Linked DNA regions of Homo sapiens: all the other regions are linked to region 3. Evidence: fine-mapped expression QTL. A gene starts in region 3. Each other region holds a variant in brackets. All regions are shown on one strand. Distances are from middle to middle.

Region 1 (10,331 bases), 160 kb after region 3:
AGAAGCTAATACCTTGGTTTGATACTAAAAAGGATTGCATTGATTCTTCATAATCAATAGAAGTATTTTTTCCATAATAAAAACAAAAGAAAAGCGTATTAACTATGCCCCATATACTCCAACTGGGTTGACTTATCTTATTTAGTATCACCTTTCTGTAATGCAATTTCATATGACTTGATAAATGATGATGATGACTGTGAGTAGGTCTGAAACCCAGTATTTTCAATTGGTTCTGGTGGTTCAGTATTTCTTTACATTCTATTCAGTCCAAATTAAAGGAAATGTTTTCTCTGTCCTAAATGTTAAATGATTTTTAAAATTTAAAATTTAAATATATTTACTTTCTATTTAATGTCAAATATTGATCAGCTAATTTGTTATAAATATTCCACTTCTAGCTTCCCACAGAACTGTTTATATGGCATTTTTTGTACTACGACTTAACAGTTTACTTAACTACATTCCTTTGAACCAGCACCTCAAGAATTAGGAAGTATACAGTTCTTTAAATGTTTGGTAGAGCTCTGCAGTGAAGCCATTGGTCCTGGGTTTTTCTTTAGTGGAAAATTTTTTTATTATGGCTTTGATTTTGTTACTTGTTATTGGTCTGTTCAAGTTTTAGGTTTCTTTCTGGTTCAATCTTGGTAGGTTGTATATGTCTAAGAATTTGTCCATTTTTTCTAGATTTTCCAATTTATTGGCATATAGTTGCTCATAGCAGCACTAATAATCCTTTGAATTTCTGCAGTGTCTGTTGTAATGTCTCCTTTATCATTTTTGACTTTATTTATTTGTATCTTCTCTCTTTTATTCTTAAGTCCAGCTAAAAGTTTGTCAATTTTAACTTTTTTAAAAAACAAGTTTTTGTTATATTGATTTTTGTATTTTTTTTTTCATTTGACTTTTATTTATTTCTGCTCTGGTCTATTATTTCTTTTGTTCAAGTATTTTTGGGTTTGGTTTTCTCTTGCTTTTCTAGTTCTTTAAGATACATCATCAGATTGTTTATTTGAAGTTTTTCCTCTTTTTTGATGTAGGCACTTATAGCTATAGACTTCTCTCTGAGTACTCTGTTATATTCCATAGATTTTGACATATTGTGTTTCCATTATCTTTTTTTCAATAAATTTTTCAATTTCCTTCTTAATTTCTGCATTGACTTACTAGTCATTCAGGAGCATATTGTTTAACTTCCATGTATTTGTATAGTTTCCAAAATTCCTCTTGTTATTGATTTCTATTTTATTCCATTGTTGTCAGAGAAGATGCTTGACATATTTCAATTTTTTGGATGTTTTAAGACTTGTTTTGTGGCCTAACATATAGTCTATCCTTGAGAATGATCCATGTGGTGAGGAAATTAATGTGTATTCTGCAACCACTGTATTAAATGTTCTGTAAATATCTATTGGATCCACTTGGTCTGCAGTGCAGATTAAGTCCAATGTTTATTTGTTGATTTTATGTCTGGAAGTTCTGTTCAATGTGAAAGTGAGGTGTTGAAGTCTCCAGCTATTATTGTACCGGGGACTATCTCTCTCTTTAGTTCTAATAATGTTTGCTTTATATAGCTGGGTGCTCCAGTGCTGGCTGCATATATATTGCTGAATTGACCCCTTTATCATTATATAGTGACCTTTGTCTCTTATAGCTTTTGTCTTTAAATCTATTTTATTTGATATAAGTACAGCTACTCCTGCTCTTTTTTGGTTCCTGTTGGCATGGAATATCACTTTCCAACCCTTTATTTTCAGTCTATATGTGTCTTTGTAGGTGAAGTGTGTTTCTTGTAGACAAGGGGTCAATGGGTCTTGTTTTTTCATTGATTCAATAATTCAGCTTTTCTATGTCTTTTGACGGGAGAGTTTAGTCCATTTACATTCAATGATATTGTTGATAAATAAGAACTTACTTCTACCATTTTATTAATTATTTTGTGGTTTTCTAGTCTTCTCTTCCTTCCTTCTTTCCTTCCTGTCTTCCTTTAATTAAGGTAATTTTCTCTGGTGATATGATTTAGTTTCTTGCTTTTTTATTTTTTGTGTATCTATTGTATGTTTTTTGGTTTGAGGTTACCATGAGGCTTAAAAATACTATTTTATAACCCATTATTTTACCCTAACAACTTAACACTGTTTGCATAAACAAGCAAACATATAAACAAAAAGAAAACTAATAACAACTCTATGCGTCAACTTTGTCCTTCTCCTTTTTAACTTTCTGTTGTTTCTATTTATGTCACATTGGACTATGTCTTGAAAAATTTTGTAGTTAATATTTTTGATTGGTTAAGCGCTCTTTCTACTTAGGATAAAAGTATTTACATACCACACTTAACAGTGTTCTAATATTCTCTGCTTTTCTATGTACTTACTATTACCAGTGAGTTTTGTATCTTCAGATAATTTCTTATTGCTCATTAACATCATTTTCTCTCTAATCAAGGAACTTCCTTTAGCATTTCTTATAAGACAGGTCTGGTGTTGATGTTAGCTTTTGTTTGTCTGGGAAAGTCTTTATTTCTCCTTCATGTTTAAAGATTATTTTCATTGGATATACTACTCTAGGGTAAAAGTACTTTTTCTTCAGCACTTTAAATATGTCATGCCACTCTCTCCTGTCCTGTAAGGTTTCCATTGAAAATTCTGCTCCCAGATGTATTGAAGCTCCATTGTATGTGATTTGTTGCCTTTCTCTTGTTGCTTTTAGGATCCTTTCTTTATCCTCGATCTTTGGGGGTTTGATTATTAAATGCCTTTAGGTAGCCTTTTTTGGGTTAAATCTTCTTGGTGTTCTATAATCTTGTACTTGGATATTGATATCTTTCTCTAGGTTTGGAAAGTTCTCTGTTACTATTCCTTTGAATAAACTTTCTACCCTATCTCTTTCTCTATTACCTCTTTAAGGTCAATAACTCTTAGATATGCCCTTTTGAGGGTATTTTCTAGATCCCGTAAGCATGCTTCATTGTTTCTTCACTCTTTTTATTTCATCTCCTCTGACTGAATTTTCAAATAGCCTATCTTCAAGCTCAAGAATTCTTTCTTCTGCTATCAATCAGCTATTAAAGGATTCTGATACATTCTTCAGTATGCCAATTGCATTTTTCAACTCTAGAATTTCTGCTAGATTCTTTCTAATAATTTGAATCTCTTTGTTAAATTTATCTGATGGAATTCTGAATTCCTTCTATGTGTTACCTTGAATTTCTTTTAGTTTCCTCAACACAGCTATTTTGAATTCTCTGTCTGAAAGGTCACATATCTCTGTTTCTCCAGGATTGGTCCCTGGTGTCTTATTTACCTCAAATGGTGAGGTCATGTTTTCCTGGATGGTGTTAATGCTAGTAGATGTTCTTCAGTGTCTGGGCACTGAAGAGTTAGGTATTCACTGCAGTCTTCACTGTCTGGGCTTATATGTACCCATCCTTCTTGGGAAGGCTTTACAGATATTTAAAAAGACTTAGGTGTTTTAATCTAAGCTGTAACTGCTTTAAAGGGCACCCTACCCTCAGTAACGCTGAGGTTCTTGCAGACTCGTAGAGGTACCGCTTTGATGGTCTTGAGCAAGATCTAGGAGAATTCTCGGGATTACCAAGCAGAGAATCTTGTTGTCTTCCCATACTTTCTCCCAAACAGAGGCCCTCTCTCTGCTCTGAGTCACCTAAAGCTAGGAGTGAAGTGACAGAAGCATCTTTGTGGCCATGACCACTGTGGCTGCACTGGGTCAGACCTGAAGCAAGCACAGTGCTGAGTTTCACTCAAGGCCTGCTGTAGTCACTCCCTGGCTACTGCCTATGTTCCCTCTAGGCCCTGAGGCTCTACACTCAGCAGGTGGCAAAGCCATCCATGTCTGCATTCTTCCCTGGGTCCAGAGGTGCTCTTTGGGAGTCAGGGACTAGAGTCAAAAACCTTAGAAGTCTACCTGGTATTCTATAGTACTGCAGCTGAGCTGGCACTCAAACCACAAGATGTAGTCCTTTTACTCTTCTCTCCCCTTTCCAAAGGCAGAGGAGCCTCAACCCTTAGCCACCACCACCCAGGCCATGAGGACTACTGCCAGATTACCTCCAAAATTACCTTAAGGCCCCAGGGCTCTTAAGTCAGCTTGTGGTGAATGCTGCCTGACCTAGGACTCACACTTCATGGCAGTGGGCACCCTCTGGCCCAGGGCAGGTCCAGAAATGCCATCCAAGAGTCAAGACCTGGAATCAGGGACCTAAGATCCCACTTGGTGCTTACCCCACTGTGGCCCATGCTGATACCTAAGATGTAAGACAAAGTCCCCTTTACTTTTTCCCTCTGCTTTTCTCAAACAGAAAGAGTTTTGCCCCATAGCCACCACAGCTTGTAATGTGCCAAGTCTCATCTAAAGCCAGTAAGTCTCAGAGGCTCATCTAATGCCGTTGGTGTAGCACCTGGGTGTCACTGCTGCTTGTTCAGGTCCCAAAGGCTCTTCGGTTAGCAGGTGATAAATACTGCCAGCACTGGGCCCTTTCCTTCAAGGCAGCAGGTTCCCTTCTGGCCCAGGGTGTGTCTAGAAATGTCGTCTGAAAGCTAGGGCCTGGAATGGAGGCCTCATGACTCTAACCGATACCCTGTCTTGCAGTGGCTGAGCTGGTCTCCAAGAGGCAAGACAAAGCCCTCTCTACACTTTCTGTTCCTCTCCTCAAGCAGAAGAAAGGAATAAAGAGGTCTCTTTTGGAGCCGCTGTGCAACCTGGTGTTAGAGGAGGGGTGATGCCAGCGCTCCCTTAGCCATCCCAACTGATGTCTCAGTATGTCCTGTGGCCCCCTACCCCACCCAGTCCACTGTCTCTGGGCCCAGTTCAGCCCTAGACTCGCATGAGAATTGCAGTCTTTATGGCTTAGGCTGCTTTTCAAGTTTACTTGGAGACAGAGCACTATAGCTCGCAGTGGTGAGGTTTGTGGGAACTCAAGTTCAGACCACTGGGATTGGCAATTCCCCTCTGGCTAGTGCTGGTTTAAATGTTCCCTCCATGGGCAGGTGGCAGCTGAGTTAGGTCCTGTTTTCCTTTGTGCCTTAATGGGACAGTGCTGAGTTCAATGCCTCACAATTGCTGTCCTCTCCTTCCTCCAGTGCCCAGATATACTACCTGCACCACATCGCTGCTGCTGCGGTTGGGGAAAAGGTAGCATCAGCGATTCAGGACTTTTTGTGTTTGTTTGTTTACCTCGTTAGTGCCTCTTTCAGTGATATGAAGTTCCAGCCAGGTGCTATGAGTGCTCACCTGATTTTTGGTTCTTATAAAGGTGTTTTTTCTGTGTAAATAGTTGTCAAATTGGTGTCCTTGTCTGGAGTAGGGCGATCAGTGGAGACTTTTATTCTGCCATCTTGCTCTCCTTCCTTTGAAATTCTTCAAGAATTAGGATGTATACCTAGACTGCCTTATTCATCTTTACAAATACAACATCTAGGAAACTACTGAGTTTATAATAGGCAATAAGAAGTGTTTGCAGCTAAGTGTACTAGAAATAGTAGACCAAATGGTCTACTATAGAAAGGCAGTATGTAGAGTGATTAGAGTATAGCTTCTGGCAACAACTAACTATAGGTTTAGTTCTCAAATCTGTTATTTTCTACCTGTATGATTTGGGCAAATTATTTAGCTTTTTTGAACTTTAGTTTTCTTCCTTATAAGAAGGGGAACGTAATCTGCACCTTTGAGGGTGACATGAAGATTAAATGAGAAAATGCATATAAAACATTTATCATTCAGTATAGTTCATAGTAAAGCTCTCAAAAATGACAGAAAAAATATGAATTTAAATAAAAAATATTTCTGAAAGTAGGTTTTTTT[T/C]TTCCTATTCTTTGTTGTTAAAAGGGAACTGGACTTTTGGTTCAAAACGGTCTACTGAACACCCAGGTGTATTTCACTTCTTTCCAATGATGCTATTCAGTGACAGTGAAGATATACTAAAAAGAACAAATCTGTAGATAGTGCTGAAAATAAGAGTGAGTGTGTCATCAACAAACAGCAGCTTCCTAAACTATGTGGAAATCTGAAAGCAAATGGGTTCATATCGATGTACAAGCCACAGAGGAACTTTATCCTGGAAAATGTACCTGAGCAAGTTACACCAAAGACGTGAGTAATTCTAACCCATGGAGCTCCCAAGAGCTCTAAATTTGGAGATGAAACGATGGAGTCAGAGATTACATAATAAGGAGAAGAAATTGGAAATATAAGTGTTAATATATGTGTAAACATTCAGGAGTTACTGCATTTTGAAATCTGAAAATATGACTATCAAATTTTTTAAATAGTAAAAGCTGAATAATAAACTTGGCATGGCTGAAGAATAAATCTGCAAGATTAAAATAATAACTAAAATTAATATAACAGAAATTGGAAGTGGCAGGAAAAGTTTTCCAAAATCAAAACCAATATTTTCATTTACTTAATTATAATATACAATGTCTGTAGCTCTGTGTTATTTTTTGCAAAACCCAAACAAAAAAGTTCTAGTTTATTCACATACAACATTGTTTGCTATTATAATTATTTATACTTTCAACTTTGTTAGATAATCTATTATCATAAAATGGTATCGGGGCATCACTTCCAAATATTGGACATCCTATGATAATTGGTTTTTAGGGAATATCTTCATTGGTTTCTAAATATTTTGCAACATCTCCTTTTATCTTAGGGTAGAGTATTTCTATATCTCTTTTGTGCTTTGAGGTAGCACACCTTAAAACAAACACTGGTAAGTAATAGATTCTTTTATCACTTATAAATGTACTGAAAATTAAATATTCATCAATCTATATCCCTTGAAGTATACAAACAGGTAGCCATATAAACCAATCTATGTTAGTTAATGGTTTTCTTCTGTAAATTGCGACTTGCTTTAGGTGACTATTTTATTGTTAAGGACAATAAAAACATTTCAGAAACTATTTAAAAAATCCATTATCACTCCAGGTCTGTAGAAATCAATGTATAGATTAAACTTCATCATTTTTATTTACATGGAGAAGCAATTAATCATTAATAATTACCTAGTTTGGAACTGTAACCATTTAGAACGTTTAGTTCTTTTCATTGCTATGCCTAACCCAGGATCAAAATGGGAACATGGATTTAATTTTACCCTTTATCCTAGGTCTCTGGACACATATTTACAACCCCCAAATTATAATAGATTTGAATCCTATAATTAAAATACAGCCCCAAGAAAGTTTCCAAGCAGTGTCACGCAAAGAACAAAAAAAGAGATCTTATTTCAGAGCAAGATAAAGAAGAAATCTGAAAATCTTTATTTTCTTGTGTTTACCAAGCCAAGCCAAGCAAAAAAAAGAAAGAAAGAAAGAAAGAAAAAGTAGAGCAAAAATTAACATTAAGTAAATGGAAATAAAAATAGAAGCATTTTCAAAAACAATCTCAATTTGATATAAAACTTTGTGAAGACAAAGATTTGTTGTGACATTCTAGGTTTGTTAATTCCAATTTGCTAATTTTTGATGAGATTGTGGAGGCAGAAGTCATGAATACCAAAGTGGAGAGAAGAGGGACGGTGTCTGGTTTAAAGAGCATCGATGGGGATGAGCTAGTGCTTTAGATGAATCATAGTTTAGGGAAAGAAAGAAGAATTTAGTATAAATAAAATTCTCTTACTTTTTCTACCTAGCATCTCTTCGTTTAAAACTCAAACCCCACCCACAGCATTCCTGCTCAGACCGGTGGTTTGGATTGGGTTGGCGCCAACCTGTATGCCCTCCTTTTCCCTGGCCTAACTCAAGGGCCACACTGGACCTAGCCAAATAGAATGCTTCTTTCCCTTTGCCATGAAGATTTGTTCAGAGGGGAGGAAAGTAACCAAAGCCGATCTTTTCCAAGAGTTTTGGCAGGGATATCTGCAGAGATATAATTTCAGAAATATTCAAAAACCATACAAAGAATTAGAAAGATATCTAAAAGGACATAAAGGAAAAGTTAAATACATGAAAAGGCATAGCATATTTGTTATGGGTAGGAAGATTCAGAATTGATAAGATATTAATTGTCTCAAAATTAATTCATAGATATTCAATATTTTGACCAAAAACCGAAAATGGTTATTTTATCTGAAGGCATAAATGCATGGGCATAGTTCTCAGATGAAACAGATGGGTGAGATTTTAGCATAAAAAAATAAAGTTGTAAAAGTAATGGGAAAACCATAAGAGTAAGTATTATCTAAGTCTTGAAGTAGAAAGCTTTCTAATTTGACATCAAAGGTTATAAAGCATAAAGAAAAAGAGAGTTGACACATATCTGCATGGAAGAATATACCATATAATATAAAAAATCAAAAGACAAGTGATAAATTGAAGAAAAAAACTTACAACCTATGTGAGAGAAATGGAGTTTATATTCATAATATGTAAAGAAATAGCACATACTGAAAGCATATAAAAATTTCACAAAAAGAAATGGTTACATGACATGGAAAGGCAATCTCAAAGAAAACCAATGACTAATAATCACATCAAAGACAATTGACAAAAATGCCAGTTAGTTCAATCATGTGATATCATCTGTCATTCCTCAGAGTAGCAAAGATGAGAAAGTACGAGTAATGCCAAGTACTGATGAGAGTAGAAAGAAATCAGTTTTCTCATATTTATTGGTTTTGGTAGTATAAATTTGTTCAATATTTTTGGAGGGCAATGTTTATTTTAACATTGTCATTTTTGCAAAAATAAATTTAAACCATGAAATGACCATCTAGCAGAACTTGTTAAAACAAATTAAGATATAACAATAAAATGAATGCAAAATATTCATCAACATGCATGAGAGATCTATATGATTATATGTGAAAAAAAATCCCTGCCACAGTATAGAGTAAAAGGCATGTTACCAAAAAAGTTATAAGACCAAATATGCAATCGAGTCACCTATAAATTATAATTAAGCTTACATCTATTTAGTGCTTATCATGTACCAGGCACTAAACTACATACCAAGTGCTACAGATGCAAGCATACACATATGCAAGCACACATCCACACATACATGTATACATATACATCCAATTTTTATCTTTGTGAAATAGGAAAGCTGGAGTAGAGGGTGGGTGGAGAAGGAAAGTAGGGAGGTAGGGAGGTTCAAGAAGAAGTAAGTTTCAGCAGGATTGTCTGAATTTTTTTAGTATGGACATACATTTGCTTTGTTATCAGGAAAAAATTGATCAAGATATTTCCGTTTTGAGAGAAAGCGAGAAAAATATGTGATATTTTGTTCGTTCACCAAAAACATTACTCATTATTTTCACAAGACTAACTATAATTTTGATATGAGCCACTTTACCAAAAATAGTGCCTTGTTCGTCTTGGTATTTCATCTTAGATTTTTCACTTGAAAAGTTATTAATACATGGTGGCTCGATTGAATGACAAGTTACTTTTATCAGATACTTTTGGGAATGATAAGGTTTTGTAGGTTGATTCTAGTTTCCATTATGTTAAGAAATTAATATTATAAAAATATGCAGTTTTAAAAATATATGTTTTTCTTCATAAAATACTTATTTTCAATAATATACAAAAGCACAGTTTCAGTTTTTATGAAAACTCTTTGGATATTTAATATTTTAAACATATACACAATATTTATTCTGCTGCCTTTAGTGGAGTCAAGTTCAAATATTTCTGTACATGACTTCAGTGCCATATTATATTGCATAAATATATGTATATTGTTTATTTATATAAATTATATAAATATTATATTGCATAAATAAATATTTATATTATTTAATTATATAAATAATATAATATTTATAAAATATTTCATATTATAAATATTTATAATATCATAAATATAAATATAATATTTATATTATTTATAATAAAATAAATAATATTAATATTTATATTAATTTATATTATTTATTTAAATAAATAATATAAATAATATTTATATACATATAAAATATTTATTTATATATTATTTATATAAATATAAATAAATATTTATATAAATAATATAAATAAATATTTATATAAATAATATAAATATAATATTTATATAAATAATATAAATAAATATTTATATAAATAATATAAATATAATATTTATATAAATAATATAAATATAATATTTATATAAATAATATAAATATAATATTTATATAAATAATATAAATATAATATTTATATAAATAATATAAATATAATATTTATATAAATAATATAAATATAATATTTATATAAATAATATAAATATAATATTTATATAAATAATATAAATATAATATTTATATAAATAATATAAATATAATATTTATATAAATAATATAAATATAATATTTATAT
Region 2 (10,331 bases), 110 kb after region 3:
ATCATAAAACAATGAATAGCTAAAATATATCAGGATTGCTTCTTAGGAATAAGTGCCTAAGAGCTTTGTGTACTTAATTTCAATTGTAATAATACTAATTGATAATTACTATTCTGCCCATTTTACCAGGAAAATAATCTGGTCTCAGAAAACTAAGAACCTTAGCCAAAGTCATCAGCAAGTAAGTTATACAAGCAGTATTGTGTCCTTGAATCTATACTTGTAACCACTGTGCTGCTGATTAGACAAAATAGCCATACCAAGCTGCTAAAGAAACTATTATGTTGTGTTTCCTTCCCAGAGCTCTTCTTAGCTTTAGTATTTTTAAAGATTTAAGTAGTAGAATGACATATCTAAATATAAAAGAAATTAAAATCCCTGTATTAACATAATGTGACTAGACATATTGTATGTCATATGCCTCTGATATTCATAACTTCGCAAAAGGTGCTAGGTATCTATTGTCATTCAGTTCCAGTCTTGGCATATTTTTCCAGTGAAGGGGCAGAGATCTCTCCACTCCAGTGTTCTATACTAAACTTTCATTTTTTTTTTTTTTGTGAGCCCAGACCAGAATCCCACAGACAGCATGAATGATGATTCATTCATGTACTCAGCAGATACCTATTAAGCAACTATTTGGCATGGAGACTGTACCAGTGAACAGATCATTCTTACCCTCCTGAGTTTGTAGTCCAGTAGAGAAGACAGATACAAACATGTACGTGGACATCAGTGTTTTAATGGCAAAGTACATACAACCATGGCTAGGTTGGCTTTCCTGGAATGGTGACGTAAAAGCTGAGCTCTCCAGTCTCAGTAGGAGTTAGCTAGATGAAGGTGGGAAAGATGTAGGAAAAGGGTAGAAACTATATTGAGAAAACTGAACATTTGAAGCTTCAAGGATGGAAAACCGTGATGTTACTATGGTCTGAAGTAGTCTGGTATGGTTGGCACTAGGACATCCAACCAAGAGAAGAAACCGGAGAGGTAATCATAATCCTAATAGCTGATATTCTTCTGGAATCTACCTATTTTAAAAAGTACTATCTCATAAAATATTCATAACCACCCTAAGAGGGAGATATTATTATTACCTCAATTTTTCAGATGAAATAACTTGATCATGGTCTTATCCAGTGAGTAAGCGGCAGAGCTTTGAATCAAAGAGCTCCAGTTCCAAAGCTCACATCCTCCACCAGCAACCACCGCTGCCTTCAGATCATGATGGGCCTTGTAAGACATAATAAGAACTCTAGTGTTTATCCTATAGGTCAGAATTCTCAAAGTATGTTCCCCACCCAAGACCTACTGAATTAGAAACTCTGGGGCAAGGCCGAATAATTCATGAGTTCGAAAACCCTTCAAGTAATTCTGATGTTCAATAAAGTTTGAGAAACTGTGCTAAGGGCAATGAGAAATCCTGTAACATTTTAAAGCAGAGAAATATGACTTAACCAGATGAGATTTTCTGAAAGCTGATCATTCTTTCCACAGGTGATCCCTTCAGAATGAAGACTCAAGCATCCTCATTGCTGCTCTGCACCCACAGTTACACACTGACTCCCCTTGAGTTACGGAGAATGAAGTTAAGAGTAAAGGCCATCCAAAGTGGTAGGACTAATGAGCTACGCAGCCTTCTATTAGGGAGCCCTAACCTGACTGCTAAATTGAAAGAGATAAAAATATCCTTTGTAATCTGATTGCAAGAAAGTGTCCCTAATTGGATGGTTGTGACTTAGATAAATTTTAATTTATTAGGCTTGCTTAGTTTTATGGGCAAAAAGTGTGCATATATAACAGTTGTTGAAATTTATCTTTCTCTTTGAATGAGGTATATTTTTCACTAGGAATAGTTGCAGTAATAATAATGACTAATATATGTACATATACTTCTTAATTTCAAAATATATTCCATGTATCAGAGTTACATAAAATTTTCACTTTTCTAGAAAGGGGCCAAATCATAATATGAATAAAAATATAGTAACTCTACCTTATTCACTGTCAACTAAAGAAAGAGTGCCACAGAATAGTAATCTTTAATTTGTAATCATTTTGTTTCTTTTCAACTAAATTACCCCCATTTCATTAACTTGTAGTAAAGTCTTCTTGCCCTACCAGTTTTTTTAAAATATTTTAATGACCTTTAATAATACTTTTAAGTATCATATTTATACTACTATAATTATATACTGAAATTTCAATTACCCTAGAAACCAGAAATTGTGAAAAACTTTTCTAAAAAGTAATGGTTTAAAAGTTGATTAAAATCACCAATATGAAAATGATTAATAGTGTACATTTTATTGAGGATATATTTGAAAATCTAACAGAGCCAATGACTAGTTTTTCATTTAACTTGACCTTGAAATACTCTTAAGGATACAAAATAAAAAGGACTTTGTCTGATGCCTGCCTCTGCCCCAAGGTGTAAGCAAAGAGAGACTTCCAATTTTGTCATATGGCCAGGGTTCAACATTTCAACATGCTGCACTTTATTTTTAATTCAAGGGAGAAAATATAGGCTTTAAAAAATGTATACAATTTTATATTAATGTCTTCTTGTGTTTTGTATTTAATGAGTCAATATCTCTTTAAGCTAACCTAACAATTTGAAAAAAAAGGAATTTTCATTCTCATTAGCTCATAGATATATACGATAAGCCAAAGAGAAGTGACCACTCAAGGCCACACATTTGCTTTCTTCTACCTGGAATACTCCCCACTCTCTCTCTCCTTCCTCCCACCCTCCCTTCCTACTAGCTCTTCATGACTCAGTCTTAACACCATTTTTTCAGGTGACCCTTTCCAGACTACTGAAATCTATCATCCCTTTCCCACCAAACCAGGATAGATTCCTTTAAGCTCCCATAGTTATCTGTCCCTCTTTATCTGTCCAACTTTTGTAATAGTTGGAATTAAAATAGTAAAAAATAGTAATTGAATGTCTGCATCTCTTCTAAGAGTGTAAATTCTAGTAGAACAGGAAGAGACACTTCTGACTTGTTCCTCATTATATCTTCAGCAAGTAGTATTGTGCTTTGCATAGAAGGGCTTCAGTAGATACTAGTGGAGGGAGGGTGAGAAGCGGGGAGGAAAGAGGGTAGGAGGGAAGGAAAGAAGAAAAGAAGGAAGGATGTTGCAAGATAAGAGCTCCAACAGAAAAAAAAAAGCACATATTTGTGTTCTAAGCTAAACTTTCATGTGACTAAATACCACTGTATTTGGCTACATGAACTCAAAATATGCTGGCTTAACCAACACCTCCATGATTAGGTGAATTATTATATGTTTATTAATGATAAGTGAATGGAGACATAGTTATTCACTTAAACACAAAGTGAAGTGACTAAAATATATTTTGGAAATCATCACATGAAAAAGGATATTTCTGAAGGAGACACATGGCATATACCTCAGAATGGCCAGAGAAAAACCACTTAGTTGTGGGAGAAATGGTCTAATCCATCCACACCACTGAGATGGATCATTTCCAAGTGGAGGCCTCTCTGATCTGGCTGTGGCTCCTGAAGGAGACATGCCTAAGATAAAGTGAAATGGGGATTGTGGAGAAGACACCTGTGTCTACTTCATCTGCCTGTTTTTGCCTAGCTCTACCAAGAGTGGACATTGCTTTCTATTTTTTCTTAGCTCTAAAATCAACTCCTGGAAGTTTCTGCCAAAGAGTCAACTTTTCACTCAAAATTTTGAGAAGTTTTACTAATCATCTATCAACCTCATTCAACAAATACTTACTGACCACCTACTGTGTGCCAGATAGTGTTCTAGATATTTAGGATATCTCGGGAACAAAATAGAATCAATAGACGTGGAGCACTGTTCTGAGACTGACAATAACTACTAAATATATAAATAGTACTAAATGACAGTAAGTACCAAAATGTATAAAATGTGATCTCTGCTCTCAAAAAGTTTACAATCTTGAATGGGAGGCAGGTAATAGTTGATAAACATAAAAATGGTGACCTACCACAAGGTAGCACATGAAGACTCAAACCTTTTAGATGTTGAATAGATGAGTTTTTGTCAGGGAAGAGACAACTTTGAATGTGGGGGTCAGGGGAAGCTCCACTAAGGAGCTAAGTCTTGAATGGGGACTCAGAGCCAAGTTTAGAAAAGCAGGGAAGGAAACTTGGGGAGAAAAGAGAAGTGTGGAGGCTCTCTGGAATCTCATGTATAAGAACTTTTCTTGAAAATTGTGTACTGTCTACATTTACCAGTTGAGCACCTGCTGTGTACTGAATAGTATAATAAACTGTGTGGTGTATGCCGTCAAAGAGAAATTGCACTCTCCAAAGTTTATGAACAAATAAGGAACTTAAAAAAATGTACATTAGTCACTAAACTACAAAGTAGAAAGTTCAAAGAGTCATAAATAAGAGAGGTGCTGAAAAAGTTCTATGGCAGTTTGGTGGAGGGAGACATTACTAATAGCTAGTGATCAGAGAAGACCTCATGGAAAATAGTTAGCATTCAACTGGGCCTTAAAATTTATGAACATGTGAAACGGAGAAAATGACTTAAACACAGAGTCAAGAAAGGAGCCTGATGGACTAGCAAAGAAATCAGAAATGGGAAAGTCATTTAAAAGGTTATTGCAGGGTTGGTATAGATGAAAAAGACCAAAATATTTTTTGACTGATTGACTTTAACTAGCAACACATACTTTCTTATTCTTCTACTATCTCTTATAAATTATTTCATTATAATATTTGAATCACCAAGTCATAATATGCAATTTTCTTTATTATTTAACATTTAGCATTTCCATCCCATTAGGAATTTTCTTGCTTGATTTTTATTTATTTATTTATTTATTTATTTATTTAATTAATTTATTTATTTGGACAGGGTCCTGCTCTGTTGCCCAGACTTGAGTGCAGTGGCTCCATCTCGGCTCACGGCTCACTGCAACCTCCGCCTTCCAGCCTCAAGCGATTCGCCCACCTCAGCCTCCTGAGTAGCTGGGACGACAGGCACATGCCACCATCACTGGTTAATTTTTGTTGTTTGTGTTGAGGTGGAGTTTCGCCATGTTGCCCAGGCTGGTCTTGAGCTCCACAGCCTCCCAAAGTACTGGGATTACAGGCATGAGCCACCATGCCTGGCCTGAATTTTTTAATCTTTAGGTATTTTTGAGTCCACATTCCATCATCAGATTTGATTACTGTCATCATGACTATTTAATATTATTTTTATTATTACAACCTGATTTTTGACATACATTTCCTTAAATAGTGGTTAATGCTCATTTTAATCTATTTTCACCTTGTCTGTTGAAGCCCCTGTATCTGCTTCATCACTGGGCCCACCTAGACTTAGTATGTTACATATATAGTTCTAATGATTTATTTTAAGCTGTACTGTATGTGGCGAGTTATTTATGTTAAATAATCAGAATAAAACAGTAAAATATAAAACACTGCTAGAATTGTATTCCAGCTATCTTATGTTCTATTTCTGATAGTTACACTAAAGAGAATTGTGTAAATTATCCTCCTGGTTCTCCTCCCTGAGGTCAACTTCAAAAGGTTAAGGATATACTCATAGTAGTATAGTTGTCCACAATAAATTCTGTCTACAAAAGGGGCTGAGTGTGTGCTACCTAAATGTTGGTGTGTGGTGTGAGAGTGACCTTGACCATGTGTGTAAGCAATTATTATTATTATTATTATTTTTGTCAGCGCACTAAAACTTTTGCTGGTCTCACAGTAATCATATTCTCATCTGTTTATGTCCACAATGGCAGGATATTTGACACCCAGAGCCAAAGTGGGAGGGACTGAGCACAGATTGAGCAGAGGTTTTGGTGGCAGAGGAGCTTGCTGCCTGAGTCCCCTCTGCCTCCTTTTAGCCCCAACTACTCACAGCAGTCCTAGAAAAGCTAAGGCAAAGAGTAGAGGAAGATATAGGATTCCCCACTCTCTTCTGTCTATCCATTCTTTAATTTAAAAAAAAATATTCATTGATTATCTACTTTGGGCTGAGGCCATAGCATGAGTTAAAAAACTTCTGCCATGAACCTTGACTGCATATC[G/A]TTTATAATTGAGTGGTGGTGACAAATATAAAATGAATCATTATAGGAGTCATTATACCATTATAATTGTGTCAAGTGCTACAAGGTGAAAGTGCAGAGTGCTATAGGAAAGCAAGGATAGAGTGCTATGCTTAAGCAGCAACCTGTTCCCCAGAACAGAAGAAAATAGAGGCAGTTTTGTTTAAGCATAATGATTGTCAGAATAAGTGATAAAATTTTATTTTCTTAGAATAAGTGTGATATAGGTAAAATTATAACAATGGCAAAAAATTTAGAAAACTGGTGGCTATTTAATAAACTATGCACAAAATCTTGTTATTCTAAAGGATGACAAGGAATCCATGGAATTTCCCCCTATAATCTTTTAATAGTACATATTCCACACAAAAGAAGGAATTTTCATCTGAAATCTTATGCACCTGTGTGGCTAGTCAATTATTCACAAAACATCATGGATCTGATATATATTTTCCCTACTTAATTTTGTTAGTCAATTTGTAATGCTAAATAAAATATGCACGAGAACCTTAAATTTAGCATGGCAGATATTTTCTGAACATTCACTTATTCACTTACTGTGGGCTATTTAGAAAAATCAGATGTGCACACTGATCATCTTAGCACATGTCCATCTGTCATCTAGAATTGCCAATAAATATATTGTTTAAATAGTTGTGGTTAAGAATAGAGACCCTGAGAATGAGAGAAGCTAGGAGTAGGTTATATAAATAGTCACAGAGCTACACCAAGATAACTTCCAGGTCAGCCACAAAATTATAATGACAGGAGTAGCCCTTGATTATTTGTTCATTTGCTCCATTTCTATGGATTCTTGAGGTACATCTTGTTGTATATTATTTCTAAATAAATGAGAAAAGGGGAAGTTAGTAAATGCACATCACTGGAACCAACTTAATCTCAGAAAAAAAAAAACTCTGAGTATAAAAAAAAGTCTTTTTTTTTTTTTTTTTTTTGTAGAGCAGTTTTAGGTTGAAAGCAAAACTGAGAGGAAGGTACAGAAATTTGTCACATACTCCCTGTCCCCACCCATGCATAGCCTCCCCCATTATCAACATCCCCCACCAGAGTGGTATGTTTGTTACAATTGATGAAAATACACTGACACATCATTATCACCTAAAGTCCATATTTTAAATGTGCACAGTCACACAGGATGCATGTTTAGACAAATGTATAAGAATGACATGTATCCATCATTATACTTCATACAGAGTATTGCCATGGTCTGATAAATCCTCTATGCTCATCCTATTCCTTCCCCAACCCCCAAGTTTTGGTAACCACTGATCTTTTTTATCATCTCCATAGATTTGCTTTTTCCAGAACGTCAGACTGCTGGAGTCATACACGTATTCCTCACTGGCAGATATGTAGCCTTTTCAGATTTCCTTCTTTCAGTTAATGAAAATCGTGTAAGGCTCTTCCATGTCTTTTCGTGGTTTGATAGCTCATTTCTTTTTAGTGCTGAGTATTCTTTCATTATCTTTTTCTGTTTTTTTTTAAATTTTATTTTCCAGTATTCTTTCTACTTTAGTTTTTTTTTTTTTTTTTTAATACTTTAAGTTTTAGGGTCCATGTGCACAATGTGCAGGTTAGTTACATATGTATACATGTGCCATGCTGGTGTGCTGCACCCATTAACTCGTCATCTAGCATTAGGTATATCTCCCAATGCTATCCCTCCCCCCTCCCCCCACCCCACAACAGGCCCCAGAGTGTGATGTTCCCCTTCCTGTGTCCATGTGTTCTCATAGTTCAATTCCCACCTATGAGTGAGAATATGCGGTGTTTGGTTTTTTGTTCTTGCGATAGTTTACTGAGAATGATGATTTCCAATTTCATCCATGTCCCTACAAAGGACATGAACTCATCATTTTTTATGGCTGCATAGTATTCCATGGTATATATGTGCCACATTTTCTTAATCCAGTCTATCATTGATGGACATTTGGGTTGGTTCCAAGTCTTTGCTATTGTGAATAGTGCCGCAATAAACATACGTGTGCATGTGTCTTTATAGCAGCATGATTTATAGTCCTTTGGGTATATATCCAGTAATGGGATGGCTGGGTCAAATGGTATTTCTAGTTCTAGATCCCTGAGGAATCTCCACACTGACTTCCACAATGGTTGAACTAGTTTACAGTCCCACCAACAGTGTAAAAGTGTTCCTATTTCTCCACATCCTCTCCAGCACCTGTTGTTTCCTGACTTTTTAATGATTGCCATTCTAACTGGTGTGAGATGGTATCTCACTGTGGTGTTGATTTGCATTTCTCTGATGGCCAGTGATGGTGAGCATTTTTTCTTGTGTTTTTTGGCTGCATAAATGTCTTCTTTTGAGAAGTGTCTGTTCATGTCCTTCACCCACTTTTTGATGGGGTTGTTTGTTTTTTTCTTGTAAATTTGTTTGAGTTCATTGTAGATTCTGGATATTAGCCCTTTGTCAGATGAGTAGGTTGCGAAAATTTTCTCCCATTTTGTACATTGCCTGTTCACTCTGATGGTAGTTTCTTTTGCTGTGCAGAAGCTCTTTAGTTTAATTAGATCCCATTTGTCAATTTTGGCTTTTGTTGCCATTGCTTTTGGTGTTTTGGACATGAAGTCCTTGCCCATGCCTATGTCCTGAATGGTAAAGCCTAGGTTTTCTTCTATGGTTTTTATGGTTTTAGGTCTAACGTTTAAGTCTTTAATCCATCTGGAATTGATTTTTGTGTAAGGTGTAAGGAAGGGATCCAGTTTCAGCTTTCTACATATGGCTAGCCAGTTTTCCCAGCACCATTTATTAAATAGGGAATCCTTTCCCCATTGCTTGTTTTTCTCAGGTTTGTCAAAGATCAGATAGTTGTAGATATGAGGTGTTATTCCTGAGGGCTCTGTTCTGTTCCATTGATCTATATCTCTGTTTTGGTACCAGTACCATGCTGTTTTGGTTACTGTAGCCTTGTAGTATAGTTTGAAGTCAGGTAGTGTGATGCCTCCAGCTTTGTTCTTTTGACTTAGGATTGACTTGGTGATGCGGGCTCTTTTTTGATTCCATATGAACTTTGAAGTAGTTTTTTCCAATTCTGTGAAGAAAGTCATTGGTAGCTTGATGGGGATGGCATTGAATCTGTAAATTACCTTGGGCAGTATGGCCATTTTCACGATATTGATTCTTTCATTATCTGGAGGTATCACAGTCTATTTATGCATTCACTTATGAAAGAACATCTTGGCAACTATGAAAAAAGCTGCTATAAACATCTGTGTGCAGATTTTTGTGTGGGCATAAGTTTGAGTAAATAGTAAGGAGCCTGACTGCTGGACTCTATGAGAAGAAGATTCTTAATTTTGTAAGAAACCACCAAACTGTCTTCCAAAGTGGCTGTACCATTTTGCATTCTCAGCAGCAATGAACAGAAGTTCTTCTTCCTCCACATCCTCACAGCATTTGTTGTTAGTATTCTGGATTCGGGTCACTGTAGTAGGTACATAGTGGTACCTTACTTTAATGAAACTCAGATTTTATGAGCTCCTCTTGGTTACCCACTGGAAGTGGAAGCTACTTTTTCTCAATATGTTCTTTAGTTACATTTGTTGAAAAGCTGAAACTAGACATATTATTATTGCTGGCTGCTATCAGCCTCTTATGTGCAACCTTCCAGTGAGGAACCAGGAAGTCTTGCTCCACAAGAGGGTGTTCCTAAATTCCAAGCACCCCTGGCTGATACTCCTTTCTTGGCTATAAAAGTTGGCTAGTGAGAGAGGCCTGGTTGAGTCAGAAAGGAAACTCTTCTTGTCTCAGTTAGGGTCTCCAGGATAATGAGTGTAGAGGGAGCAGAAGTGTTTGGAATTTTCCTGTTCTTGCTACACCTGCCATTATGATCAGAGAGAGTAAAAAATAAAACACGAGGCTGGGCACTGTGGCTCACGCCTGTAATCCCAGCACTTTGGGAGGCCGAGGTGGGCGGATCACAAGGTCAGGAGATTGAGACCATCCTGGCTAACACGATGAAACTCCATCTCTACTAAAAATACAAAAATTAGCCAGGCGTGGTGGTGGGCGCCTGTAGTCCCAGCTACTCGGGAGGCTGAGGCAGGAGAATGGCATGAACCCAGGAGGCAGAGCTTGCTGTGAGCAGAGATCCCGCCACTGCACTCCAGCCTGGGCAACAGAGCGAGACTCCGTCTCAAAAATAAATAAATAAATAAATAAATATATAAATAAATAAATAAATAAACATGAAACCCCTCTGAAAAAGGGGTT
Region 3 (10,331 bases):
CATAAAGTTTGGGAAACTGCTGGAAATAAGGAAACTTCTTTCTGGTAACCTGATAGTTTATTAGTGAAGCTCTCTGTCTTGATTTTCTACATAATTGTATAACAGCCTTCATTCAGGGATGATTTTTCAAAATGACCAATCTGCAATCTCAGCTTCATAAGCTACAATTTAAAGCACATTGCAAATGAAAAAGTAAAAAGTTATCAAGAAAAACATATTTGAAGTTTCAACAGTGAGATATTTGCTATTTAATGTTAAGCTAATAACTCCTATGAATCAAGTAGAAGTGAGGATTAGGTAATCATTAGTTTAATAATGCAATGCTAATTAAATTCTTTCAAATAGGTTATATAATATGAACCAGGAGGCTGGCTAAGGTAATAAAATTTCCAGAAAGAAATCTAAATATGGGTAATGGTGACTAACTTGAGATGGGTCTTTCCTGTAAGAGAGGGACAGGCAGGCAGCTTGAAGGCCCAGTAACTATAGAACACTTAGTCTAGAAAAGAAAGTGAAAGTTCTACTCATTTATGCATAAATATCAGGAAAGCATCTCCTAAAGAGATAGCGTTATTTTTACACAGAGAACTTAATGTTTCTCTACAGCAGTGCTGTCCAATAGAAATATAATACAAGCCCATTGGAAATTTTAAATTTTATAATAGCCACATGAAAAAAGTAAAAATAAAATTAATTTTATTTAACCTAAAATTTTATTTCGCCTAATAAATCCAAAATATTATGTAATCAATAATTTTAAAGTGTTTGTTTCAATATATATCATAAAAATTAATGAGTTTTCTTATACTAAGTATTCAAAAGCCAGTATGTAATTTACATTACAGCCCTCTCATCGCTGACTAGCCACATTTTATGTGTTCAAAGCCACCTGTGGTTAGTGGATACTATACTGGATAGTGTAATTGTATAACTTTAGACTATTACCCAAATGAGAGTTAGTGTGTGTATAATGCTTTCAGTGGTAACTCCAAAGTAATGAAAGATCTGGAAACATATTTGAATAACCAAATAAAGACCATCTTTTTAGTGTAATTTGATAATCATTTCTATGTTTTATTATGTTCTATTTGAATATTGATAGTCCATGGATGGACTATGCTTAACTATATTAATTGAGTCATTATTTGTGACACCTTAATTTAGGAACCAGCTGTGATTAAAGTTTCCTTTAAACAAGCCTGATGATGCAGAGTGCCCGGGTGGAAAGTGGACATGTAGAAATCACCTGGGTCTCCTCAGATATAGTCTTCACGAGCAAGTCTGGGCCCAGACCCTCCTGGCAGAGAGACCACTTTCCTCTGGTACAAAAGAAGTGAGAGAAGAGATGTCTCTTGGGGAGTCAGGGAGGTAAAAGGAGGCCAACAATATATATGCAGGAAGAAAAGCACCTTGCGGTACTATCCAGGCAACTCTCTTGGTGCTGGCTCTGCAGTCAACTTGCTTGACTAAAAGGGGTATCTCATGCCTAACGTCTCTCACCCTGGGCATTCTAGATAAACAGGCAGGCTCACTTCTGCTTATGGCATGAATATACCATATGGGACACCTTGTCCACAGAGGGTAGGGTAGGCGAGATATGGACCTTCTCTTTTGAGGGGAGGAGTCTATCTGAATCAACCACTGATCTGAAATTCTACAGAGACTCAAAGACTAGTCCATGTGGATATTTTTAATTGTGTGGGAGATGGGCACCATTTGAAGACCCTACACCTTCAGGTTCTTGATAGCAAGTAAAGCTATTCCAAAGGAAAGAAGATACCTTACTGACATGGCAATCACAGATCGATCTTTAATCATTATAACATTTTTTTCTTCAGCCAACAAAAATTTCTCATTGTGTTTCATTTCAACTTCTACCTTTTAATGTATTACCTTTTAATTTTTAAACTTTTGGTTCAGTTTATCAATTGTCCCTATTAACCTCAGCCTGCTTGTTACAGATAACATACAGATAATAGATTTAAGTAAACAATAAAGAAGAACCACTATTTTTTGAATGTATTATGTGTCAGTACTGAGCTAAGCATTTTTGAAACATTAGAGTCACCCACATTTGAAACAGGACAACTGAAGCTATTTTATACAGAAGATTCACACACACACACACACACACACACACACACACACACTCTTCTACAGAAGATGGCTTATATATATTTACACACACTCTTGAAACTTCTTCATACAAAATAGTGCATAGCCCACAAACCTAAGAATCCTAAATTATCTTTATTACCAATGTATTGTTTTTAGTGTTTTATTTCTAGACTGTAGCCTCAATCCCTATTTTATAGCTTCAAGCTACCACTGAATTTATTCTGAATAGAGAGGCAGTTTCTTTACATGAGGAATAAAAGATATCTGTATTCTTTAGAATGTTACATGAGAAATAACTTCAGTCAACTCTTCGGCAAATACTCAAGGCATTACTATCACTATTAATGTTTTAACTCATTGACTGACTAGGAATCTTGCCTTTTTTCCTTTCATCCCAGTAAATACCTTGTAGATTGGCCAAAATTTTGAAAGTTAAAAATCAGTTTGGCTCATCATTTCTAATCAATTATCTTACTCATCAGTCAGGTTGATAAATTTTCACTCCACTTTTATTCATTCATCCATCCAAAAGATCTTCATTTAATTCATATCTATGACATATCTACTATGTTTACATTTCTCTGAGAACAGTCAACTCCCATGCTACACATGCCCAAACAATTTTTTCCTTCCATTGACAGGCATTATCTTAAATTTAATACAGTATTATGTCATGATTTATCCAGTTAAACACAGACATCCAGAAATAGATTCAGTGTCCATCCAGACAGGAAGTAGGCACTAAATATCAGTAGTTATAATGTCATGGATCAGGAAACTATGACAGGACAACAGAAATAAAATTGCTCCCTCCTGAGACCTTGCCAAGATCCTCTGGCAGACCAAAGTTGTCGGCTCCACTCCCTAATTCTTCACCCACAACTCTCTCATGCAATGAAAATTATGCTTTGCAAAATCATTCCAAAATGTATGGGTCTGTGAATGTTTTATGCATTCCTACTGTGATTTCTGGTATTGAGGATGCTTAACAAGAGGCTAGGGCTTATTCTACATGCTACAGACAACTCGTAGACTTTTATAGGTGCTCTGAGTTAAAAGTAAAAATTCCATTATGTTTATACTCTATCTGAATTCATCTGAATGAAGGGAACCAGCTTCACAGTTTGAAAAAGAGCAAAGACTACTATAAAATACAAAAGAAGTTAAAGATCCAATAACTAATCTCAAAAGTCCATTTATAGCAAAGAAATATAAAGAAGTACCAATTTTATTCACCGTTTACAGATGACCCATCAGCTCAGCAGACAACATATTAAACCATTCACTTAATTTTATTTGCATTGAAGATACATACATGGAAGAAAATGGCTTAGACTTTGGACGCATTCAGACCCTAGTTTGACTTTAGTTCCCACCTATCAGTCACTAGCTAAGTAACTTTTAAAAAGGTATTTGCAACTCTGAGCCACAGTCCTCATACATAAACTAGGAACAATGTCAACCATGACCCAGGGTTGCTTTAAGGGGAAAAAAGTTAAGCAATATATATAGCAGTAACACTTTGGAACAAGATAGGTCTTGTTATTTAATATTCCTTCCTCTTTCCCCACTTGCCTGTGTGCAACAAACTTGTCTTTGGCTTTGAAACATGAAACTTCTCCCCTCTATCAGTACACATTTTTCAACTTGTCACAAATCTGAGACATTGAGAAATGACTGCAAAAAGATGGACCCATATAACATGAGTTTTGGATGACGGTTTTGGGAATGGAAAATTATACTACATTAACGATGAAGATGCCAATTTTCCTTTTCTTTTAGATTGTATATTGTAAGTAAAACTATCACTTTTTTTTTTAGGCCTTTAGGTTAAACGACGGGATATGGGATCAATTCCAATTGCTATTCCTGATATGCTCCTTAGCCTGTTCTTTAAGAGGGTTGATAGGTCAAAGATGGAAATAAAATTCTCAAGTCTTGGCTTAGCTGGATCCTGTCCTTAATACGCTGAGAGAGTCTAAAATGTGCTTTACACACGGAGAGACGGGGAGAGATGAAGAGAAGGTATCATAAGAAATTTCTCTAGCATAGTTGTCAGAGTACTGCAATCATTGCCATAAGGAAAAGGGAGAACGATATTAACAGAAAGGGAATCCCTTTTATATTAAGGAGGCAAGATGAGATGGAGTTGAAACTGAAAACTTTATGCTCTTTAAACCAGAAGTAACAGGCAACGTGAATCTTTCCAGGACTTGCCCTATGGTGGGGTCCACATGGGGGGTCGGGAGGTCACTAACTCCTGGTCCCATACCCAACTCACCCAGCTGGAGCTGTTCGCACGTCTGGCCGGGATTCTTTCCGATCCTGCATCTGTAAATCGCCCCGGGATTGATCACTGAAGCGTTGGCGAGCCAGTTGGCAGTGGGCGCACCCACTAGGAGCCTAAAGCGAGACACGTGCACGTGCGCTCAGACGTGAGCTGTGCTGCCCACTGAGCTCCCTGTCGCCACAGATGTGCAGTCCGCAGCAGGGCAGCTTCCCCACCTCCTCCTCCGCCCACCACCCCCGACTCGAAGCTCCAAGACCTTGCACCATAACGCACCCGGGGCGCTGCCGCCCCAAGATAAGTTAGTTTCCCTGGCAGATTTCCAGCGAGCTGGCTCTCGCAGCGTTTCCCTCCTGCCTCCTTGGGAGGGAGGAAAGTTTGAATCGGGCAGGGAATCCCTAGGGCGCCATTCTCACGCCGCTCTGAGCTGCTGAGGGCGCATCAGTCCAACTCTACTCACCATCGGTTCGCCCCGTGGCTGTGCAGCACGACCGAGTAGCCGAACAGCGTGTTGTGGGGGCCCTGGTAAAGCAGCGCGCTCTCAGTGTCCACGTTGTAGGGGCGGCCGGTCGGGACCCCCAGGCACAGCAACAGCATCACCGTCTCCCGGACGGCGGCCCTTCGGGGGCCGGGTTCGCGCCTCGCTTCCCAAGCCATGCGCTCTCGGTGGGGAACATTCAACACTAAACGGCCACTACCCCAAAGTTGCACGGGATGCGACGGTTGGCCAACGGGGAAGAACGCCCCAAGAGATGAGGCGCAGCGTGTCCGGCGCCAGCGGGCTAAAGGAAGGAGAGAGGGAAGAGGAGGGGAAGTCGGCCCACCGCGGGCGGAGCGTTCGGGCCGGCCTGGGATGCCGCGCACTCGCCCGGCCCCACTCCCGGTTTCTGCCGCCAGCCGGGAGCTTCGGGTGCTCGCGCTGCTTCTCCGGGTACGGGCCGCTGGGTGGGGTCCCGGGCGTGGTGCGGAGGCGCAGGGCCGGGCTCCGTCTCTGCCTACGCGCGGCTGCAGGGGGCGCTGGGGAACCTCGGCTGCGCAGGACTCGCGTCCTGGCCCGGGCCTCCCAGCCCGCAGAGCGCGGGATGGCTCTGGGCTCAGCAAGAGCGGACCTGATGGGGCACGGGCTTCCCCTTTTAACGGTGGTTGGGGCCTAGAAGCGGAGCTGTGTGACCCCAAACTGCGCGCCCCTCGCTGTGACCGCCCAGCCCGGCGTGGCCCAAATGCCAGCCACAAACTCGGGGAGTGGGACTGCGGCGGGGAGCCGTCCAGTTCTTTCGTTGATAGTTAAACACTGTGTCTTGTTTTTCAGGTGTAGGCAACCACTAGATAAATTATCAAGAGCCACAGATTAAAAACAAAAAACCAAACAAAAAGACTCGCCGAAGGCCCCTGGGGAACATTTTAGTGACAAAGACGTTATGGCTATTCTCTTCAAGACCCACATCTCAGCACCCTTCTATACCCACTTCCTTCCTCCCCACACTTCCTCTGCAGCCCGGGCTGCATGCGTGAGCAGGCTAGCAGCAGCCTCTCAGGCTGAACGGCAGGCGGTTTAGGCTGTGGCTGACCCCAACAGAGAGGTTGGGTTAAGGAAGCACTGTGACTTGATTCACTTTAACCGATTCGGATTGCTCCAGCTGGTAATTGATGATCCCCCCTTTTCACGCACCCACTCAGTTGCCACGGGACACACCTGCTTTTAGGGGTGTAAACCCCAGTGTGGGGTCAGGGTCCTAATGAGCCTCTGAAATGTGCCGGAGACCCACAACGCAACACACCTGAACTGGGTAGTGAGTCTCATTCTAATGCAATCCAGGTGTGCCCTGCCTTTTTTTTTTTTTTCCTTCAGCAACCAGAGAGACAGCCATAGGTGATTATTAGACTGATATTTTCAGGAGATGAAAGTCTAGTTTTTTATTGTTGCTATATGTAAAAAGAAAAGAAAAGTCTGCATCAAAGAGTGTGTCTGTGTGCTAAAACCATGCTGGAATAAATAACACATCTGACACTAATGACAGATACACAATTAAAATGCTTATTCATTTATTCAGCACATTCATGGAGCAGGCACTTGACTAGGACCACAGGATTCCACCAAGAGTAAGGCAGGACTGATACAAAGTTTCAAAAAATGTTCGCTCCAATGGTAGATAGAAAAATTTGTACTAACTAGAGAAAGATCCAGGTAAGGACACTTAAAGAGAGATTTGAAGGACCAGGAATCTTGAATCAGGCTAAGAATGGGATGAGCAATAAGGAGGGCTCCAGAGGAGCCAGGTAGAAGAACTGAGAGAGCTTGCCTGGCTAGAGTATTTAGCCACTCCACACACAGGTTGGTGTGATATGAGGCTGACTTAGGGAAGCAGGAATACATGGTGAACCTCATGAGCCAGGTTAGGAATTTTAAATCTATGTTGGGACTGACAGGAAGTTGAAGAATTTGTCTCGGTCAGCTCTGGGTTTCAGAAGTGTGAATGCAAGACTGAACACAGAAAACCTAATTTTGGAAGCCCCTGCAGCAATAAGTAGAGATAGGATAATCCCAAGGGGAAGTATTTCTCTTTCTTGAAAGAGAATGGTGCTACCATTCATGGAGAAAAAAACACTGAGAAATGAAGTTATATGCATGTATGTGTGCATGCAGATGGGGGCATGGATGGGTTAAGTTTTAGCCATGTGGAGTTTGAGATGTTTATGGAATGACAGGATATTCTAGCCAAACTCAATGCAATTATTTTCAGTCTGTCAACAGACAAAACATGAGGAATATTAACTTTCTCTTACTCTATACTGGAAAAAGTCAATACAGTGTGTGATAAATCTATTGTAAAAATGAAATGGCTTCCAGAAAGCTAACAATCAGGGCCCATGGCTGTTTCTTTCTGTAGTAGTGCTGAGTGTGTTTCTTTCTTAGTAGATCTACATGCTGATTTTAACCCAGTTCCACAATGAGCTTACAGTGTCGTTATTCTGAACTATGCAATCCTTCTTGTTTACAGCTACAAAACCTCCAGTTGAGGCCAAGGAAGTAGGTATGTTGAAGCCATTCTGACACCCTCCAGAAACTGGCAAAGCCAGATCTTCTGATCTGAACCCCTACCAGTTTCTTTCCCTCCCTTCACCAAAATCTTTTACAATGAAAGCCACTCAACACAATTCGTTTCATAGCGTAGTTTTGGTGACAAGCAGTCAGTGGAGTGGTTGGTAAGGCAGGACTTTTTTCCATAGTATGGTTATAGTTATGATTCACTACCTTTCAAGAAATAGCCACCCTACATTACCTCACGTTAGTTAGCTGAATTTCCTTCCTCCAGGGCTTGGAAAACAGCTCGCTTTTCCTAATGTTAGCAGGAATAAAGTGTGTTTCATGTTGCTTTAAAAAAAACTGAAGATACTGCTATCTCTCTGATCAATGCTTCTGAAGGCAAGTGAGGGGGTGGAGGAAGGAGAAGAGAAGGATGTTTAAGAAAGACTCATGCCTATCCCTAGCTCTCAACTCGACATAAATATTTGGGCACTCAATTATTAAATGTCATCAGATTAATATGTATATAAGTGCCCACTATATGCCAAAAAAATGCATTATGCACTAAAATTATAGTAGACAAAATACAAGTGATCTCTAACCTTGTGTAGAAAGTCCTCCCCAGTAGCGAGAATTCTAATGTGGACTCACCCTATTTTTCAGTTTTTATCAAGAGTAAGCATTTCTCCTTCTAGGAAGACTCTCTTCTCATGATACCACCTTATTAAGCTTTTTCCTGCCTTTCTATCTGGCCACTCTGAGTTTCCTCTGATGGCTCCCTTCCCTCCGCCATAAGTGCGGGAAACCCCCAGGGCTATATTCTGGAAACTCTTTCATTCTCTTTCCATCTTCCCTCTTTAGGAGATCTAACCCATTTCCTATGTCTTTAAATACCATCTAAATATAAGTCATTAACAGAATCAAAAACAGAAACGGTATACTTATTTCAATAGATGCTGAGATAGCATTTGATAAAATTCAACATTCCTTTATGATAAAAATTCTCACCAAAATGGATATAGAAGGAACATACTTCAAAATAATGAAGGCCATATATGACAAACCTACAGTCAACATCATACTGAACACAGAAAAAATGAAGGCCTTTCCTCCAAGGGCTGAAACAGACAAGGATACCCCCTCTCACCACTGTTATTCTACGTAGTACAGAAAGTCCTGGCCAGAGCTATCAGGCAAGAGGAAGAAAGGAAGGGTATCCAAATTGGAAAGGAAGAAGTCAAATTAGGTTTGTTTGCAGACTACATGATCTTATACCTAGAAAAATCTAAAGAGTCCACCTAAAAGCTGTTAGATCTGATTCAGTAAAGTTGCAGGATGCAAAATCAACATACAAAAATCAATAGCATTTATATGACAACAGTGAACAATCTGAATAAAAATCAAGAAAGCAGTTCCTTTTACAATAGCTACAAAAATGTACAATACCTAGGAATCAATTTAACTAAAAAAGTAAAATATCTATGCAAGGAAAAACTATAAATAAAACTCTGATAAAAGAAATCGAAGAGGACACAAAAACCCAGAAATATACTCCGTGATAGACTGGAAGAACTAATATTGTTAAAATTACAATACTACCTAAAGCAATTTACAGATTCAATGCAATTCCTATCAAAATACAAATGACATTCTTCACGAAACAGAAAAATTCCTAAAATTTATAAGAAACCACAAAAGACCCTGAATAGCCAAAGCAATCCTGAGCAAAAAGAACAAAGCTGGAGGCATCACACTACCTAACTTCAAAATTTACTACAAAGCTATAGTAACCAAAACAGCACAGTATTGGCATAGAAACAGACACATAGACCAATGGAGCAGAATAGAGAATCCACATATAAATCCATGCACTTACAACCAACTAATCTGTGACAAAGCTGTAAAGAACATACAATGGAAAAAAACAGTCTCTTTAATAAATGGTGCTAGGAAAACTTAATAACTACATGCAAAAAAATAAAATTAAAACTTTCTCACCACTTCTTCCTTTCCAGTTTGGATACCCTTCCTTTCTTCCTCTTGCCTGATAGCTCTGGCCAGGACTTTCTGCACTATGTAGAATAACAGTGGTAAGAGGGGGTATCCTTGTCTGTTTCAGTCCTTGGAGGAAAGGCCTTCATTTTTTCTGTGTTCAGTATGATGTTGACTGTAGGTTTGTCATATATGGCCTTCATTATTTTGAAGTATGTTCCTTCTATATCCATTTTGGTGAGAATTTTTATCATAAAGGAATGTTGAATTTTATCAAATGCTATCTCAGCATCTATTGAAATAACCAATACACCAAAACCAAATCAAAATGAATTATAGACCTGAAATTATGAAATTACTAAAAGAAAACATTGGGGAAATGCTCTAAGATATTGGTCTGGGCAAAGATTTTTTTGTGTAAGACCTAAAAAGCACAGGCAACCTGAACAAAAATAGACAAATGAGATTACATCAAGCTAAAAAGCTTCTGCACAGCAAAGAAAACATCAACTAAATGTAGAGAGAACCCACATAATGAGAGAAAACATTGGCACACTATCTGATGAGGGATTAATAACCAGAATATATAAGGAGCTCAAACAACTCAATAGCAACAAAACTAAAACCTAACAAAGAATGTAATTTCAAAATTGGCAAAAGATCTCGACAGATATTTCTCAAAAGAAGATATACAAATGGCAAACGGGTATAAGAAAACATGTACAACATCACTAATCATTAGAAAAATGAATATCAAAACCACAATGAGATATCACCTCACTCCAGTTAAAATGGCTTATATAAAAAAGGCAAAAACAGTTGCCGGTGACAAAATGGGGTCAAAGGGGAACCCTCATACAGTGCTGCTAGAAATGTAAGTTATTACAGCCACTATGAAGAACAGAATAG

Evidence for each region.
Region 1: its variant is fine-mapped to the expression of ITGA4 in whole blood (TOPMed, PIP above 0.99).
Region 2: its variant is fine-mapped to the expression of ITGA4 in whole blood (TOPMed, PIP above 0.99).

What each region holds. Positions count from the first base shown.
Region 1 is chr2:181,288,605-181,298,935 of GRCh38, reverse strand. All of the region lies in intron 3 of LINC01934 (long intergenic non-protein coding RNA 1934), which reads right to left. Among named protein-coding and RNA genes, the nearest start is that of MIR4437, 12 kb to the left of the region's middle. The variant T/C (reference allele first, on the strand shown) is at 5,824.
Region 2 is chr2:181,345,110-181,355,440 of GRCh38, reverse strand. The region is part of intron 3 of LINC01934 (long intergenic non-protein coding RNA 1934); the gene reads right to left. Among named protein-coding and RNA genes, the nearest start is that of MIR4437, 45 kb to the right of the region's middle. The variant G/A (reference allele first, on the strand shown) is at 6,062.
Region 3 is chr2:181,452,386-181,462,716 of GRCh38, reverse strand. ITGA4 (integrin subunit alpha 4) reads right to left here and starts at 5,331. Exons shown (of 28, transcript NM_000885.6): 1 at 4,866-5,331; 2 at 4,400-4,521. The coding sequence starts at 5,062. RefSeq lists enhancers at 1,458-1,507, 4,285-4,334, 4,695-4,744, 4,805-4,994, 5,715-5,824 and 1 more and a silencer at 5,145-5,534.